2 separate regions of the Homo sapiens genome follow, and region 2 is linked to region 1. The links come from fine-mapping of genetic effects on gene expression. A gene starts in region 1. The other region holds a variant in brackets. All regions are shown on one strand. Distances are between the middles of the regions. Region 1 holds the start of FAM120A (family with sequence similarity 120 member A). Region 2 overlaps FAM120A (family with sequence similarity 120 member A).

Region 1 (8,338 bases):
GGGATGATTATAAACTTTTAGCCCTTAAGAGAGAATATATATACTCAACTGAGTACTGTCTTTCAAAGCAGTCCCTGTCAGTTTGTCCATTGATTCCATAGCAGCTCTCACTGCCCACCCTGCTTGAGAAGCCTCTTGGAGTTGCCTAGAGAGTCTATAGCACTCATCTGAAGGCCCTCCATGAGAACAACTCTTCTCTTCCACATAGATATTTTTGCATCAGCCCAAAGCTATTTGGACACAAGTTTGGTGAACACGGTAAGAAAAAAACAAACCAAGCAACAAAAACAAAAAGCAGGCAGTGCTGTGTTAGACTGAAAGTAAAAGATAAAAACTCTAAGAACCTATGAAGCGCCAGGGCAGTGCTGGTTGCTTTCACCCATATGGTCTCCTTTGGTGTTCTGCTGGTGCTTATGAAGCAGTATCCCTACTGACAATGACCCTAGCTTAAGAGGGCTGAGAACTGCTGAAAGTGAAGCTGTTTATAAATGGTACAGTCAGGACCGACAGACACATGGGTGTGGTATGACTGCAAAGTACCTGTGGAATTCAGATGGGATTACCATCCCCACTATAAAGGGCAATATGATCTGTTGCAGGAGGGTTTATAGGGTACTTAGTTACACAGGTCACACTGATCCCCTTTTCCTCTTTTTTTCTATGCAAGTATCTATTTGTCTATATGTCTGTCTACCTTGGTAGGTTGGGCTCCTTGAAGAAGGGTTATGTTTTCTTCATCTCCATATCCCCAGTAGCTGGCCAATGCCCAGTATACACCAGGGGCTCAGTCGCTGTTTGTCTTATTTTCTTGTTGACTCTACTCTGACTTAGGACATATCACTTTCCTCTCTTGACCTTCACATTCAGATGTGTTAATAAAAGTGGATAAAGACCACTCTAGCTTTAAAACACCCTCCAATATAGAGAGAACTCTGAAACCAGAAGCAGAAGCTGAGGAATGGTGAATAGAGCATTTTCCCTCACACGATGGGTATCAGGGTGGTTTCTTGTCCTTTCAATGCCTCTGCAGAACTTGACCCTAGTTTTTCAAATTGGACTCAAGAATGATCTTAGTGTTGGTGGTTTTGTGGTTTTCTTTGAGACTTTGTTATTGACAGAACAGCTTCTGGAAATCTGAAAAGAAAAAAAAAAAGGTAGTTTATATATTAGTTTGGAATATGAAATGTATTTTGTCATGGTCTCCAGAGTCCGAATATTGATCTCTGTGGAGCTCTCCTACCCTCTGCTACTGCTGATAACTCATAGTACTGGAGAGATAGCAGAGCCTGAAGACCAAAAAACTCAACTGCCGATACACGGCTGCAGTGTGGTCAGTTACTGATCTACCATTTATGAAGCAGGCCTACAGATGTGTGTGTTCTTCTGGGTAATTTAAATTGACAATTAATTAACAGGGCTGGTGCTAGGTAAACATTATAGGTTAGAATCCCTAGTGTGGATTAATTTGCTCTCTTCCATGATCGCAGACTCCCTGCTTAGCTCCAGTCTGCTGGTCTCCCAACATCTGCTAATGATTACATGGGCAGCATTAAGGTCTCTTATTACCTTGTTTGAAAAACTGGAAACTCATCTGTTATTGTTGGTGGTTAGATACCTCACCTAAGTAAAATATTAATTAATGATATTAGGCTGGGCGCGGTAGCTCATGCCTGTAATCCCTGCACTTTGGGAGGCAGAGGCAAGTGGATCACTTGAAGTCAGGAGTTCGAGACTGGCCTGGCCAACATGGTGAAACCCCGTCTCTACTAAAAATACAAAACTTAGCCAGGTGTGATGGTGTGTACCTGTAATCCCAGCTACTCCAGAGGCTGAGGCAGGAGATCACTTGAACCTGGGAGAGGGAGGTTGCAGTGAGCTGAGAACACATCATTGTACTCCAGCCTGGGCAACAGAGCAAGACTCCATCTTGGGGGAGAAAAAATAAATAAAATAAATACAAAATAAAAAAAGAAAAAGTCCCCAACCATTAGTTGTCATATTGTAACCTCCAAGAAGACATAACTTTTTATTAAATTTTAAATACAGATGTTTATTTTTTATTTTTTATTTTTAAGATGGAGTCTCGCTCTGTTGCCCAGGCTAGAATGCAGTGGCGTGATCTCGGCTCACTGCAAGCTCCGCCTCCTGGGTTCACGCCATTCTCCTGCCTCAGCCTCCTGAGTAGCTGGGACTATAGGCGCCTGCCACCACGCCCGGCTAATTTTTTTTTGTATTTTTTTTAGTAGAGACGGAGTTTCACCGTGTTAGCCAGGATGGTCTGGATTTCCTGACCTTGTGATCCGCCCACCTCAGCCTCCCAAAGTGCTGGGATTACAGGCGTGAGCCACTGCGCCCGGCCCAGATGTTTATTTTTACCTCAATATTTAAGCAATTTAACTTCAACCAACCCCTGAATTTGAGTTAAGGATGCAGAGTATATAAGTGTTTGTCAGCTAAACATTTTGCCCACCATCAATAGCTACTCAATAAATAAAGTTTTTTTTTTTTTTTTTTAAAGAACACAAAGCTAAATAGGGCAACTAAGAATTGAGTTTTATGTGTTATGATACAATAATGAATTTTAAACTTTCCAAAAGTACAATAACTGGTCTATGTTCTCGAGTATAAGTCTAGACAAATACAGTTTCTGGAAATAACTACAAAAGCCAACATTTATTGAGCATTTGTTGTGTGGCAGGCACACAGGTTATCTGATTTAATCCTTATAACAACCTGGGAGGTTAAGTACTATTAATATGTTGATTTTACAGATGATAAAATCCAAGGTTCAATAAGGTAAATATTTTTGCAAGGGCACAGACTTATCATAAGATGGATATTGGGGGCCTGACTCCAGAACCTTAGACCTCTACAATATAATAAGGTGAAAATAAATTTATTTCCAGAATTCCAGATACTGGCACTGGCATTTTTTTTTTTTTTTTTTTTTGAGATGGAGCCTCGCTCTGTTGCCAGTCTGGAGTGCAGTGGCGTGATCACTGCAACCTCCACCTCCCAGGTTCAAGCAATTCTCCTGCCTCAGCCTCCCGAGTAGCTGGGACTACAGGTGCGCACCACCACGCTCGGCTAATTTTTGTGTTTTTAGTAGAGATGGGGTTTTACCATGTTGGCTAGGATGGTCTCCATCTCTTGACCTCGTGATCTGCCCGCCTCGGCCTCCCAACGTGCTGGGATTACAGGCGTGAGCCACCACGCCCGGCCGCACTAATGCATTTTTAAAAATTAAAAGCAAGAGTGTTTAAAGAAAAGGTAAATACACGGAATGCAATGCTACAAATGAAAATACGAGTGATTAAAAACTACTACTCCTCACCTTGTGAACCTGCCTTGGGTTATAAAAGCAAATTTGGATATTTCTGGATTTTGCTCGTTATTTAATGGCTAACTGTATTATTTCTTTTATTTATTTATTTATTTTTGAGACGGAATCTCGCTTTTTGCCCAGGCTAGAGAGTGCAGTGGTGCCATCTCCGCTGACTGCAACCTCCGCCTCCCGGGTTCAACCAATTCTCCTGCCTCAGCCTCCCAAGTAGCTGGGATTACAGGCGCACACACCACCAGGCCCGCCTAATTTTTGCATTTTTAGTAGAGACGGGGTTTCACCATGTTGGCCAGGCTGGTCTCGAACTCCTGATCTCAAATGATTCACCCGCCTCGGCCTCCCAAAATGCTGGGATTACAGGCGTGAGCCACCGCACCTGGCCTGTATTATTTTTAGATAACATGTCATCCTGGCTTTGTGACTAATTTTATGCATAGGTGAGTGGCATAACTTGTCAGCCTGCTTTTAAATGTAACTTCCTAAAATACCAGCAGCATTTAATTTATGTACGTATGATACTGGCTTGCATTTGAGGTGGGTATCAGAAAAGAAAGCAGAAAAATCCAACTTGCCTTTTTCACCGGGAGTATGGGGGCTTCTTTGGCCAAACCGTGCGCGTGCAGGCTCCATGTGCTGGGCAGCAGCTGTCCGGCCACAGCCTGTCGGTTGCATCCTGCTCCTCTACAGAGGTTTCTCCAAAAAAAGAACAAATGGAGAGATGAAGGTAAGTAAAAGCGGCACTTTAAAACTTTTAGAGTGCTGGGTTTCTAAATTTATATTCTGAAAGACATTAATCTCTTTTTGAAAATGTTTTATGCAAGCCTAATATACATACAGTATCAACCTCATTTTAGAAGCAGTTACGACAGAGCTTTGGAACAGAATTTACGTAAACGACCTCCTTCCAGAAGATGCTACTAAAGCAACAAGATTCAAATCCCTCTCCCTCAGAAGAGCTGGGAGATCCACTGCAAAGGCGCACGTTTCAGTCTAGCCATTGCGCAGTGGTAACGCAGGCTTTCCCACGCTGCAACAGACCTGTGCTCTCAAGACAGTCTCTTCCGTGACGAGCAGGCGCTTAGGGCTACCTGTACCTTCAGACATTATGGTGTGTTTGGCCATGTCATTTGTCATAGGTGTAAAAACCACAACCGAGAGCCCGAAGCTGCTGGGATGAGCACCTGCCGCGGAACTGCATTCTCGCGCTCCTTCCTGCTCTTTCCAAGAAGCCAGGCGCGGCCGGCCAGCATCCCGCTCTCCCGGACCCCGCAGTCAGTGTGGGCAGCAGGCCCAGAGTGGTGCGAGCCGACGGCGGCGTTAGAAAGGCGGCGTCCCGACGAACAGAGTGACTCGGCCTCGGCTCCCCTTCAAAGCGCCATCTTATCGCTGCTTCCCTCAGGAGCAGGCGAGCTCTTCCCCAGGACCTGCTTCGCGGCTTCCCTTCGCCCGAGAACCACCGGGCGGAGGCGGCGGCCTCTCTGGCCCTGCCGGGAACAGGGCGCAGGGGAGGGGAGCGGCGGCCGACCGGCCTGAGGCGGGCGAACGGCCTCTGGCCTCCAGGCGCTGCCTGCTCCGGCTCAGAAGCCTCCCGGATCCCGTCCCGGCCCAACTCCGGGCCTCCGCCTCCGCCGCCGCCTCCGGGAGCCCCGAGCCGCGTCCCGCCGGCGCCGCCTCTTCCGCCTGCTAGCCGGCGGGCCTGGGCGGCGTCCGCGCCGGGCGGGTCCGCTACGTCAGCGCCGCCCGCCCGCCCCGCCCCGGCCCTCAGCCTCGGCCTCGGCCTCGGCCTCGCAGCGGCGGCAGCGGCGGCGGCGGCAGGTCCCTCCCCAGACATGGCCCTGGGAGGCGGCAGCACATGGCGGCCGCGGCGGCCATGAGCGCGCCCCCGACCCGCCCCAGTCCCCCCTAGAGGCCGCCGCCCCCGCCCGCCAGCCCGCCCGCGCGCCACGGCCCCACCACCCCCGGCCCCGCCGCCCCCCGCCCGCACCCGCGCCCGCGCCCCCGCCGCCGCCATGGGCGTGCAGGGCTTCCAGGACTACATCGAGAAGCACTGCCCGAGCGCCGTGGTGCCGGTGGAGCTGCAGAAGCTGGCCCGGGGCAGCCTGGTGGGCGGCGGGCGGCAGCGGCCCCCGCAGACCCCGCTGCGCCTGCTGGTGGACGCCGACAACTGCCTGCACCGCCTCTACGGCGGCTTCTACACCGACTGGGTCAGCGGCGGCCAGTGGAACCACATGCTTGGCTACCTGGCGGCGCTGGCCAAGGCCTGCTTCGGCGGCAACATCGAGCTCTTCGTCTTCTTCAACGGCGCGCTCGAGAAGGCCCGGCTGCACGAGTGGGTCAAGCGGCAGGGCAACGAGCGCCAGACGGCACAGCAGATCGTCAGCCATGTCCAGAACAAGGGCACCCCGCCGCCAAAGGTCTGGTTCCTGCCGCCCGTCTGCATGGCCCACTGCATCCGCCTGGCGCTCATCCGCTTCCACGTCAAGGTGAGGCCGGGGATCCGGGCGGGCCGGGGACCGGGGCCGCGCCGCACCCCTATCCCCCTTCCCAGGGCGCAGAATGTCGCCCGGCCGTGGCGGCGCTGGGGGCAGCGAGTTCCCCCAGCCCTTGCCCGGGATAGCCTGGCCGGGCCGGGCTGCAAGATGGATGGCCGCGGGTGCAGGCCGCGCGCTGCCCAAGCCCGTCTCCAGCTGTCCCTGTTCGGGGTCCGCGGCCGCGTGGGGACACTTGAGGGCTGGGAGAGAGCCCCGGACCAGAATTCGGAGGCGACAGTGTCATCATCCCCAATATCCTTAGTTTTTCCCATCCTATTTGAGGCGGGCAGGCTATCACTCACCTTCAACTTTGACAAAATACTCCCTTTTCTAATTTAGCCTGTTCTTTCCCAGCAACAGGTTCATCTTGGAAGCAGGCAGGATACAGAGTAATAGAGGGGGTTTCGCCAGAGCCCTTGGGGGCTGCAAATATCAGTGCTGCTGCCGCCGCCCTTGCCAATGTTGTTAGCCCGGTGACAGCGAGACGTGTCTAAGGGCCAGTGCCCTGGCCTCTACTTCAGAACGCAGTGCCCTGTCCGTGTTCCTCTTAGTACAGGGTGTTTAGAGAATCTTTCTATGGCTTTTTGTGTTAGATTTCAAAGACCCGTGCACTTTGACAGGATGGGATTTTGTCAGTTCTGTGACTTCACGTCCGTGTGAAAGAGGTCTTTAAGGCAGTTCGGTTTTGTAGATCCCATGCGAAAGGAGTCGCTCAAAATCAGGGGGCGAACTACGCGGGCGTGAACTCGCAGGATTTATTTTTCGGGTGCACAGTAAGTATTCAGTGACCTTCAGCGGTGCCCTGACGGGTGGGTAATCAGAGCTCTATATCACCGGCCTCCTCTGGCCCTTTGGCAGAGGGCTTCGCAGCTGGCACTGGGCCAGAGGAGAACTTCAGGACCCAGCAGTGACTGTGAAGATAAGCACATCCATGATCCTGGACTTCACGTTCTGATTGCTTGCTTTTTTCATTGGTTTTCTTGAAAACAAATTTTGGGGGCCTTTTTGTTGTCTTAGCTCTTGACACTCGGTCTTCCATCTTGTCATTTGACATTTCCTTGAAACTGCTGGAGCTGAAAGTTTGTGAAATTCTGTCTTCGCGGTTGCCCCCACTGCCCGCGAGGAGATGGTGGTAGTTAAGCCTAAAATGATAGCGGAAGTCCCACCCACGATCCGGTTGCAATTGGTGAGATGGTGTTTAAGTCGTGGGTGGAGGCGGCCGGCAGAGTCCCGATTGGCCCCTGCGCCTGGCAGACACACAGCTGCCATTCCTCAGGGAAGTTCGGGTGAGAGGAAGTGCCTGCCTTTTAATTTCTGAATCGGAGCCTGGGGCGCTCAGGGAAGTAAGGTGCTGCCATTTGTCTGAAGCGATCCATCTCCCTAATAGAGCGTAAAAGTGTTCATAGTTTAGTCTTGTTCAGAGATGGAAAAGACTACTTAAAAGACAGGATGAGCTGCACTGACTTGCCTTTGGTAACCGCACAGCTCTCTACTTAACTAGTCAAGCGACTTTCAAGGGAACACTGTGAATATTACTTAGGATTAGAATCAGTATGTATGCATATGGTCACTGTATCTTTAAAGAACTGTTGAGTTCTTTTTAATTCTACAGTTTCTTTATCTTTGCACCCCTTTGAATGCCTCGCACACCTAGTAGGTGCTCAGAATTCAGACCAATGTGTCAGTGTTAGGAAACTAGATTTAAGCTCCATTTAAGATCGTCTTTTTCACTTAGGTTTCTGGACACGGGATAATGGGATAATTTTGTCTGTATTTTGCTTTTGCTAAGCTTTTAATTATTGACCTAGGGTCATATTATAGTGCGAATTGCACAAAATGAATATTGTAATAACTCAATTACTTGGTGGTCTCTTAGCTGGCAACCTTACCTTTTTGAAAAGTGCCTAAGAGATTTAGCTACTAGAAATTTCTCAGCAACCAAGCAAGATGTCAGGAAGTTTGGGTACAGTGATGTGGGGGGTTGGCGGGTGTAGGGGGGTGCTTTTGCTTTCCTCACTGAAGAATCCTTTAAGCTCTCTCACTCATGGACTGGCCTCTTTTCATATGTAATTCTAACAAGCTTGGTTATCTATTTTCTAAACTCAGCTTGAGAAGAGGATGAAGAGGAGAGTCTGCCAGAGGCAGGAGCACCATTAATAGCAAGAAGTGACAAGAGAGATTTAAAAAGCTATAAAAAGCAAACATAATTCTGGGGCTATTTTAAGAAAAGGAAAACAACCCTATGTACTTCCTTGGTCCCTGAGGGTAGTACAATGTTTATTCTATAAGGATGATTTTGAGTCATAAAAATTAATATTCAGCATTCTCTGTTTAAGGGATTGAAACAGTGTATACCATTTAATAAAAGATACCCATAAAGTGGTTAAAACGTTTAAAACCATGATATCACTACATGCCTATTAGAATGGCTAAAAGAGAAAAAAATATGAGCAATACCAAGTGC
Region 2 (8,338 bases), 53 kb after region 1:
GTGTCTGCTGTATGCTAGGAACTGGGCATTGGAGATCAGAGGCATGGCACTGGCTTTGGCTGCCTATGTATGTGGCTGGGTGGTGGACAGGGAAACATGGCCTGTGCCGATGCCCTGTAATAAAGGAGGTAGGGCTTGTAACCTGGAGATGGGCATGGAGTGGCTGAATCTCCACTGCGAGGTCAGTAAATGGCAGCAGCCTCCCAGTGGGGCTCTTTGCTGCTCTCTTGCTCCCCTGCAATCCATTTTCTTCCCAGCAGCCAAAGTAATGTTTAAAAATGGCAGTTGGACTGTGCTACTCCCATGCTCAGAATTCCCCATTGGCTTCCCGTCACACTTGGAATAAATTCCCAACTACTTACCTTGCTTCCTCCCCATCATCTGAGACTGCTGGCTTCTCACTCCTGAGCGCAGCCTCCTTTCTTGCCTTGCATGAACCAAGCTAGCTTCTGCCCTGGGCCTCTGGGCCGGCTTTTGTGCCTGGAGGGCTCCTTTCTCTGACCAGCTTGTGTTTGTGCCCTTCTGATTTGTGAGATCCAGGCTGTCGTGTTCTCCAAGGTCTGCCTGGCTTTAAATCTCTGCACACTCCTTGGCTTCTATTTGTCACCACCACCACCCCTTCCCCCGTCACTCCCCACAATGTAAAGTCTAGGGTAATGAGGGCCTATTAGTCACCTTTACTTTTATATCCCCAGTGGATAAATATTTGACTGAATGAATTGATCCACTTGGTTTTTAAATCAAGAGAGTGAAGTGGTGAGATGTGTTTTAGGATTATTTTTGGAAAAGGGGGCACAGAGCATCAGCAGGAGGGAGACTAGCTGTATACTGTTTCATCAGTTAAGGTGAGGCATTATGGGACCAGATCTCAGTGTGTCTACTGTATACCCTGCACACAGAAGATGTCTAATAATTGCTTGTGGGAATGATGGGGAGCATGAACATTGCCACCTGTGGCCTACTGCCTCCTGACCTCGAGCTCCCTATTTTATAGAATGGGGTCATTATGTGAATATTAAAAGAGAAGGCGTATGTAAGGTGCTTTAGTGAAGTACTTGTTCAGTCATTCAATGCCCTTTTAGGTAATTCTGCCTATAAGAATAACAGATACTGTCTGATAGTAGATACTGTCATTATTCTTCTCATTGGCAGAATGGCCTCAACAGGCACTGAATGATTGGGCATTGGAATGAGCAGTGAGGAGCCTGAAGGAGCGCTCAGAGGTGGGGCCGGCAGTCTCCTGTGTTTCACTGACATTGTGCTCCTGTGGGACAGTCTGTATGGCAGGTGTAGTTTAGAAAGTCCTTAGAGTGTACTTGGGACTGGAAAATCTACTTAGGAGAAAATTAGGAAGATAAGTATAGAGAAAGGCAGCACACTTAATATTTGGCATTGATCTGGGCTCATAATTATGAAGATGTTTTGAATAGGCAAGGTGAGTTAAGTTTGAATATCTTAAAAATATGTTCTGTCAAGTGCTTTTGTGTTCTTATCAAATTATTAAGATTTTAGGTGAGTATTTTAGAGGTGAAGTTTACTCAGAATTTAGTTTCACTTTCATTTTCACTACTCGGTGGTTTATGGAGAACAGCAAAGTAACTGGTAGAGTTTGGGATGCTTGGGATGATAGTTTGAGGCAGCTTAGGGTAGGCATGAACTGCCTGTAAATCCTCCTGTACAGCATTCCCTGATGCTTCTGGCTGTTGCAGAAATGAGGGTTGTATGCGGAGGGACTAACAAAAGTACAGGCACAGAATGACAGCCAGGCAGGAAGTTTGGGCAGTGTAGAATTTTAAGATGACGGGTATGCAGTCTGGAATGGCAGGAGACAAGCCTGGAGAGAGGCTTCAGGCAAGATTGGGAAGGACGTTTTGTTTCAAGCTGCATACACATGATTTGGAACTAGCAGAAATGGATTCTTGTAAAAATAACTTTAGTTTTTTTCTGATAACTCTGAAGAAACATAAATTACATTAGCTGTCATTGATTTTTACCCCTGCATACTACTGGGATCCTACCAGTGAAACTAACAGGGCGAAGACTGGAACCTAAGTTGAAAGTCTAGAAGGAACAACATGGAGTCGGTGGGACCCTTTCTGGCAACTCAAGTTAGAACCCATGATGTATTTTCCACAGAAATATTTTTATAAGTAGTAGATAGGTCCTAAGTGGTCTTTGGTGATCTGTCATAGAATCCAACCACAGTCCATTATATTATTCTACAGGAAAATAATTCAGAATTTTGAAGAACCAATGTGGGGATATTAGTTTCTTGTTGTATTAGAATTTATCTTATTAATCATTCAGAAATTGGAATATGTGTAGAGTTTTGAAGAAATTTTAGGGTAATCATATTATAAGCTTAGAGAGCATGGCTATAGGGGAAAAACATGGGGTGAGTTGATCTAACCAGAGGTTTCTAAACTTGGCTGGAATTTTAGATTCCACCTCAAAACTGCTATTTTAGCATCTTAATTGGGCCTTAGGAATTTATATTTTTTAAAAAGGAATGTTCCTAGCTAGGTACCAGTTGGCCTGGCTTTTAGGAACCACAACTCATCCTCTGTGCCTTTCTTTGTAAGCCTGTAAATCTATCTGCAATATTGAGAAAAATACCTCAGATCTCTAAACAGTTATTGGGTAGTGTAGAGTTCTTAGGAGGACACATACACACACACACACACACACACACACACACACACGCACACTTGCAATATAGTCTCCCAGAAATTGTGTATTTTGAGATGATTTTGAAAATAAGTGGTGGTGAGATGCATACTTATTTTTAAGCATTCACTATGTCATAATTACTAAGCGAGGACCTGCCTATCTGGAAATGGTTGTGATTTGTTCTTTCTGTCTCAGCATGTAAAATCTGCTATAGCTCTCCACGAAATCACCAATCTAAATGCAAGCACAAATAAGATATGTGATAGTTGAGATTTCAAAATATTTAGTTCCCTAGTTAAACCAGTTGCTTCAAAATCATTGGTGGAATTTACTAAAGTAACAAGTAACACAACTAACACTGAGGTCTCACCTCAGATCTGTGGATGTGGAATCTATGGGCACAGATCCCGTGTGCAGGTGAAATTGAGGCTGAAGAAGTAGCCACTGTGTCATTGGCCTTCCTTAGTGAAAAGTAAATGGGCTCCTACTACACATTTTAATTACACATTTGTTAGAATGATTAACATAGAAAACACCAACAACACTAAATGCTGGTGAGGATGGGTAGCAACAGATTGTGCTGCTAATGGGATTGCAAAAATGGTACAGCGACTTTGGAAGACAGCTTCGCAGATATTTACAAAATTCCCAAGTCATGCTTGTTGGTGTTTGCCCAAAGGAGTTGAAAACTTATGTCTACGCAAAAACCTGCACACAGATATTTAAAGCAACTTTATTCATAATAGCCAACGCTTGGAGGCTACCAATATGTCTTCAGTAGGTCAACAGGGAAATAAAGTTTGGTGTATCTAAGCAATGAAATAATCAACACTAAAAAGCAATGCGCTATCAAGCCATGAAAAGATGCAGAGGAACATAAGTACATATCACTAAGTGAAAGAAGCCAATCAGAAAAGGCTACATACTGTGCGATTCCAACTATAGGACATCTGGAAAAGGCCAAAAGTATGGAGGCAGGAAAAAGATCAAGGGTTGCCAGAGGTTGTGGGGAGGGAGGGATGATTAGGCAGATTTTTGGGGCAGTGAAACTATTCTGTATGATACTGTAACGGTGGATACATGGCATTATACTTCTAGCCATATCCAGAATACGTACAGCACCAAGAGTGAACCCTAATGCCAACTGTGGGCATTAGGTAATCATAATGTAGCCAGGTTTGGCTCATTGGTTGGAACAAATGTGTCACACCAATGCGAAGTGTGTACTCTGCTCAAGATTTTTGTAACCTTGAAACTGCTCAAAAAAAAAAGTATATATATATATATTTTAAAGTAAAGAGCTCGTTGATTTGTGCATTTCATGACAGGCAGTGTGCTGGGTGCTGAATGGTGTGGTAAATAAGAGAGGAGTTACCGTTGCCCCTACAGATGAATGTATAGTGGGGAAGTGAACACCAGGGAATCCTGCAGGAAAGAGAACAGGAACCTCAAGGAAGACCAACCTGATTGAATCAATCTACGATTAAAATGGCTGGTTCTGATTGATTAGATTATTGTTGAGTGGGGTTTGGGGGTTCAGGCATCTAGCAAGGTGCCAATATGGGAAGAAGTGTATTCCATGCAGGGGAGGTGGCATGTGAGAGGTCCTGAGTTAGGAGGACATAGTGAAGAAGAAAAATAAGAAGAATGTGGTTGAAGCACAGAAAGCGGGGAGAGTGGTCAGGTGATGCTGAGAGCGGCAGTGCAGTTGCCAGGCACCACCTTGGATTTTAGACTTTATTCTTAGAACGTGAAAGCTCATGGAATAATTTTTACCTGTAAAAAAAATGATTTTGTAACTATCATACTACAATGTGTTAGTCTTAGAACATTACTAATATCTTAGCCCTCTTATATGTCTTCGCTGGTTGCATTCCTCGACTCTCTACCACCCTCAATTTTGTATTAGTTATTCTGTGCTTCTCTATATAATTTTATCGTGTCTGTATGTCTGGATACTAAATAGTTTCATTTTGTTTGTTATGAAATAAAATCATATAGCATGTACTCCTCTGACTTGCCTTCTTAATATTTATATTATTGTGTTTCATTCATGTTGGCATAGTTCATTTTTTAATGCTGTGCAGCATTCCATTGTATTAATATATATTTGTCCATTCTACTGTTGATGGAAAATGGACTGTTTCCAGCTGCTTGCCATGATGGATAGCGCACTTGTGAACATTGTTTCATGTGACCTGATGTGCCCAGGAGTGGAATTCCAGGGAACCTCCAGGGTAGGGCCCTGTTCAAGCCTCTGCTGCTGCCGGACACGGATACACCTATTTATTCTCCTGGCAGAAGTGAAAGAACCCTCTCATTGCTCCACGTTTTATTATTTTTTGGTCTAGTGATTATGAAACTATATCCTGTAAAGGTTTCAGTTGCATTTCCCTGATTACTAATGAGGTTGAGAATCTTTATGTTTATGGGCCAGTAGGGTTTCCTCTATTGTGAAATGCTTGTTCATGTTGTT[C/T]GCTTGTGTTTTTTTTTTTTTTTTTTTTTTTTTTTGAGAAGGAGTCTCGCTCTGTCACCCAGGCTGGAGTGCAGTGGCGCAATCTCGGCTCACTGCAAGCTCCGCCTCCCAGGTTCACACCATTCTCCTGCCTCAGCTTCCCGAGTAGCTGGGACTACAGGCACTCGCCACCACGCCTGGCTAATTTTTTGTATTTTTAGTAGAGATGGGGTTTCACAATGCTAGCCAAGATGGTCTCAATCTCCTGACCTCGTGATCCGCCCGCCTCGGCCTCCCGAAATGCTGGGATTACAGGCGTGAGCCACTGCGCCCGGCCTGTTCGCTTGTGTTTCTGTTGGGTTGTTTTTCTTTTTGCTTATTCATAGGGATACTTAATATATATATTGGATGCTAGTCAGATAAATGGACTGCAAATAATAATCTTCCAATCTGTGGCTTGCATTTTTCTGTCTTCATGATGTGCTTTGATATCAGAGTTCTTAATGTCAAATACATGAATTTTTCCCTTTGTTGTTTGTACCTTTAAGTCCTATCCTGTATTTATGGATGAAATGATGTCATGTCTGAGATTTGCTTCACAATAATGCAGTAGTGGGCAAAGAAGGGTGGAAGTGCAGATGACACGCAATAGGCTGTGTGCTGGTTAATTTTGAGGGTGGTTGATAGATATGTGTGGCTTATTGTACAGTTCCCTTTTTTCTTGTGTTTGTTTAAAGTGTTACATGAGAAGGAGAAAAAGAAAACATAAAGGAAGAATTCCTCCCTAGCCTGAGGTGATAAACACTTTGTCTTCTAAAAGTTTTATTTATGATTTTGCCCTTTGATACTACCTGGCACTGAATTTTGTTTATGGTTTTTGAGTGAGGGAATTCAGTTTCTTGTTCACCGTGTGGAGAACCTGTTGCCTTAGTATTGTCCACTGAGAATGCTATCCTCTTCTGACATGTTGAGTGTCTCCGTGTGTGGGTCTGTTTCTGGGCTCAGTTCTGTTGAATTTCTGATTATCTTCATGCCACAGGATTATGCCGTTCTAGTTGCCATAGCCTTGTAATAATACTTGATGTCTGATTGGGGAAATCTGCCCATGTAATATTTCTGCAAGAGGTCGAGACTGTTCTTGATCCTTTTCACTTTTATGTACATTTTATGATCCTTGTGGAGATTTTGATTGGAATTACACCAACTCTGTAGATCAATTTGGAAAGAATAAAATCTTTATTATTGAGTGTACTAAAGAAAATGTTACATTTCTTTATTGATTTGAATTGTCCTGAATATCTTTCCGTAAACTTGAATTTTCTTCATTAAGCATTCATAACATCTTTTCTTAGAGATATTGCTAAATATTTATTTTTGGGTGCTATTTCTATGTGTGTCTTATATTTTCAAATTAATACTGTAAGTTGATTTTATCTTAACAACTTTGCTCAGTTCTTATTAATTTTCATAGTTTATTTGTATCTTGCTTTGGCTGATTGTGTCTCCTCTAGTATCTTTTTGATCTTCCTGATCCACTGAGCCAGCTGTGACTTAGGGCATGATTTTTTTTTTTCTTCTTTTTTTTTTGTTTTCAAGATGGAGTCTCGCTCTGTCGCCCAGACTGGAGTGCAGTGATACAATCTCAGCTCACTGCAACCTCCACCTCCTGGGTTCAAGCAATTCTCCTGCCTCAGCCTCCCGAGTAGCTGGGATTACAGGTGCCTGCCACCATGCCCGGCTAATTTTTGTATTTTTAGTAGAGACGGGGTTTCACTGTGTTAGCCAGGCTGATCTCGAACTCCTGACCTCATGATCTGCCCACCTCGGCCTCCCAAAGTGCTGTCCACAAATGGACAGGTGTGAGCTACCACACCTGGCCGGGGCACGATTTTTAATAGAAGGTGCGATGGTGACTGTTCTTGTCTAGCCCTTGATCTTAAGGGGGAGTCTGATGTCTTGTCATCTTAACCCTTAGCATTATCTCCTCTACCTTTTCCATGTTAAAGAAATATCCTCATGAAAGAGTTTTAATCTGGGAGTGGTGTGCTGAGGTGTGCATTTGAATTGCTTGGGCCTCAGTGTGCAGAGGGGATCAGAGTGGGCAAGGGCAGGTATAGGGAAAGGAGTGGGAAACTCTTTCAGTATTGAGGCAAGGCATGGTTGCAGTCCCTGGGGCAAGTTCTCCTCTGTGGGAGGCAGGAGTGCTGGGTGGATTTCATAGGTTTTTGGGAGATGGAATAAGTAGATAGTAGATATTGATGCTTGATTATAGAAGCTCAATGAAAAGAATTCGGGGGAAATGGCTCCCAGAGTTTTGGCTTGAGCAGCTCAGGTGAGGATGCCATTAATGAGATAAAGATGGTTGGAGGAAGAGCAGATTTGGAGGATGGTTTTGGATACGAATGTTGAGGCGCCTTCTAGGATCCCGGTGGAGATGGGAAACAGGCATTAGAATGCACAGGTGAAAGCAGAGTGAGGAGCTAAGCTGGAGTCATGGGTTGCAGCTTTGCTGGTGTGTAATGCTGAGAGGAGCTGTGGTGGTGGAAGCGGAGGATAAAGAGATGGCGCCCCTGGGGCCAGATGCAGGAGGTGGGTGCACAGAAAGAGTGGCTCAGCGAGGCCAGGGGAGATACCCTGTGCACAGTTGTTAGCAGCGCTGAGTTCTGAGAGGTTGGGCAAGATGAGGGCGCTGCCTGATAGATGGAGTGTCAGTAGGACCACTCAGGGCAGGCTTCGGCTGAATTTGGAGCTCCCAAACCTTGTGTATGTACAATTGGTTGGCCCTCAATAAGAGGCAGTGGATCCTAGGAAAAGTCATTTTTAGCTTTCCTTCTTCCTCAGTATAGAAATTCGTAGAAGAGGATAGGATGGGTGGCAAGTACCACGCCTCTCTCCAGTCATTTCCATAAAGGGGTGGGGCTTTGAAATGCAGGGGAGAATTGAACAGGTTGAAGTTGTTATGGGGATGATGACTACTGAGAGAGAGGGGTTAAAGATACAGAAGGGAGTGGTTTTGGTGCACATGTGGTTTTACAGTGAAGGTAGGGGAGCTTGATCTCTCATAGCAGACAGCCTCCTGCTACCTGGTCTTTTGAAAGTCTAGCCTCCACTAAGCAGCATGGGGAGGTCACAGAGTGAGTAGACTGAGGGCATATGTGTAGAGCAGCCAGGCTGCTGTGTGTCAGAGAAGAAATTTGCAAATAGGACCATGTT

What was found.
Region 2: its variant is fine-mapped to the expression of FAM120A in whole blood (INTERVAL, PIP above 0.99).

Annotation. Positions count from the first base shown.
Region 1 is chr9:93,446,564-93,454,901 of GRCh38, forward strand. It overlaps FAM120A (family with sequence similarity 120 member A), which reads left to right and starts at 5,122. Exons shown (of 18, transcript NM_014612.5): 1 at 5,122-5,826. The coding sequence starts at 5,353. It overlaps FAM120AOS (family with sequence similarity 120 member A opposite strand), which reads right to left and starts at 7,018. Exons shown (of 3, transcript NM_198841.4): 1 at 5,584-7,018; 2 at 3,916-4,036; 3 at 1-1,134. The coding sequence starts at 6,146. The coding sequence ends at 1,048. RefSeq lists enhancers at 4,602-5,151, 6,731-6,860, 6,924-7,218 and silencers at 4,732-5,261, 5,402-5,531, 5,832-6,011.
Region 2 is chr9:93,499,898-93,508,235 of GRCh38, forward strand. The region is part of intron 5 of FAM120A (family with sequence similarity 120 member A); the gene reads left to right. Among named protein-coding and RNA genes, the nearest start is that of FAM120AOS, 50 kb to the left of the region's middle. The variant C/T (reference allele first, on the strand shown) is at 5,147.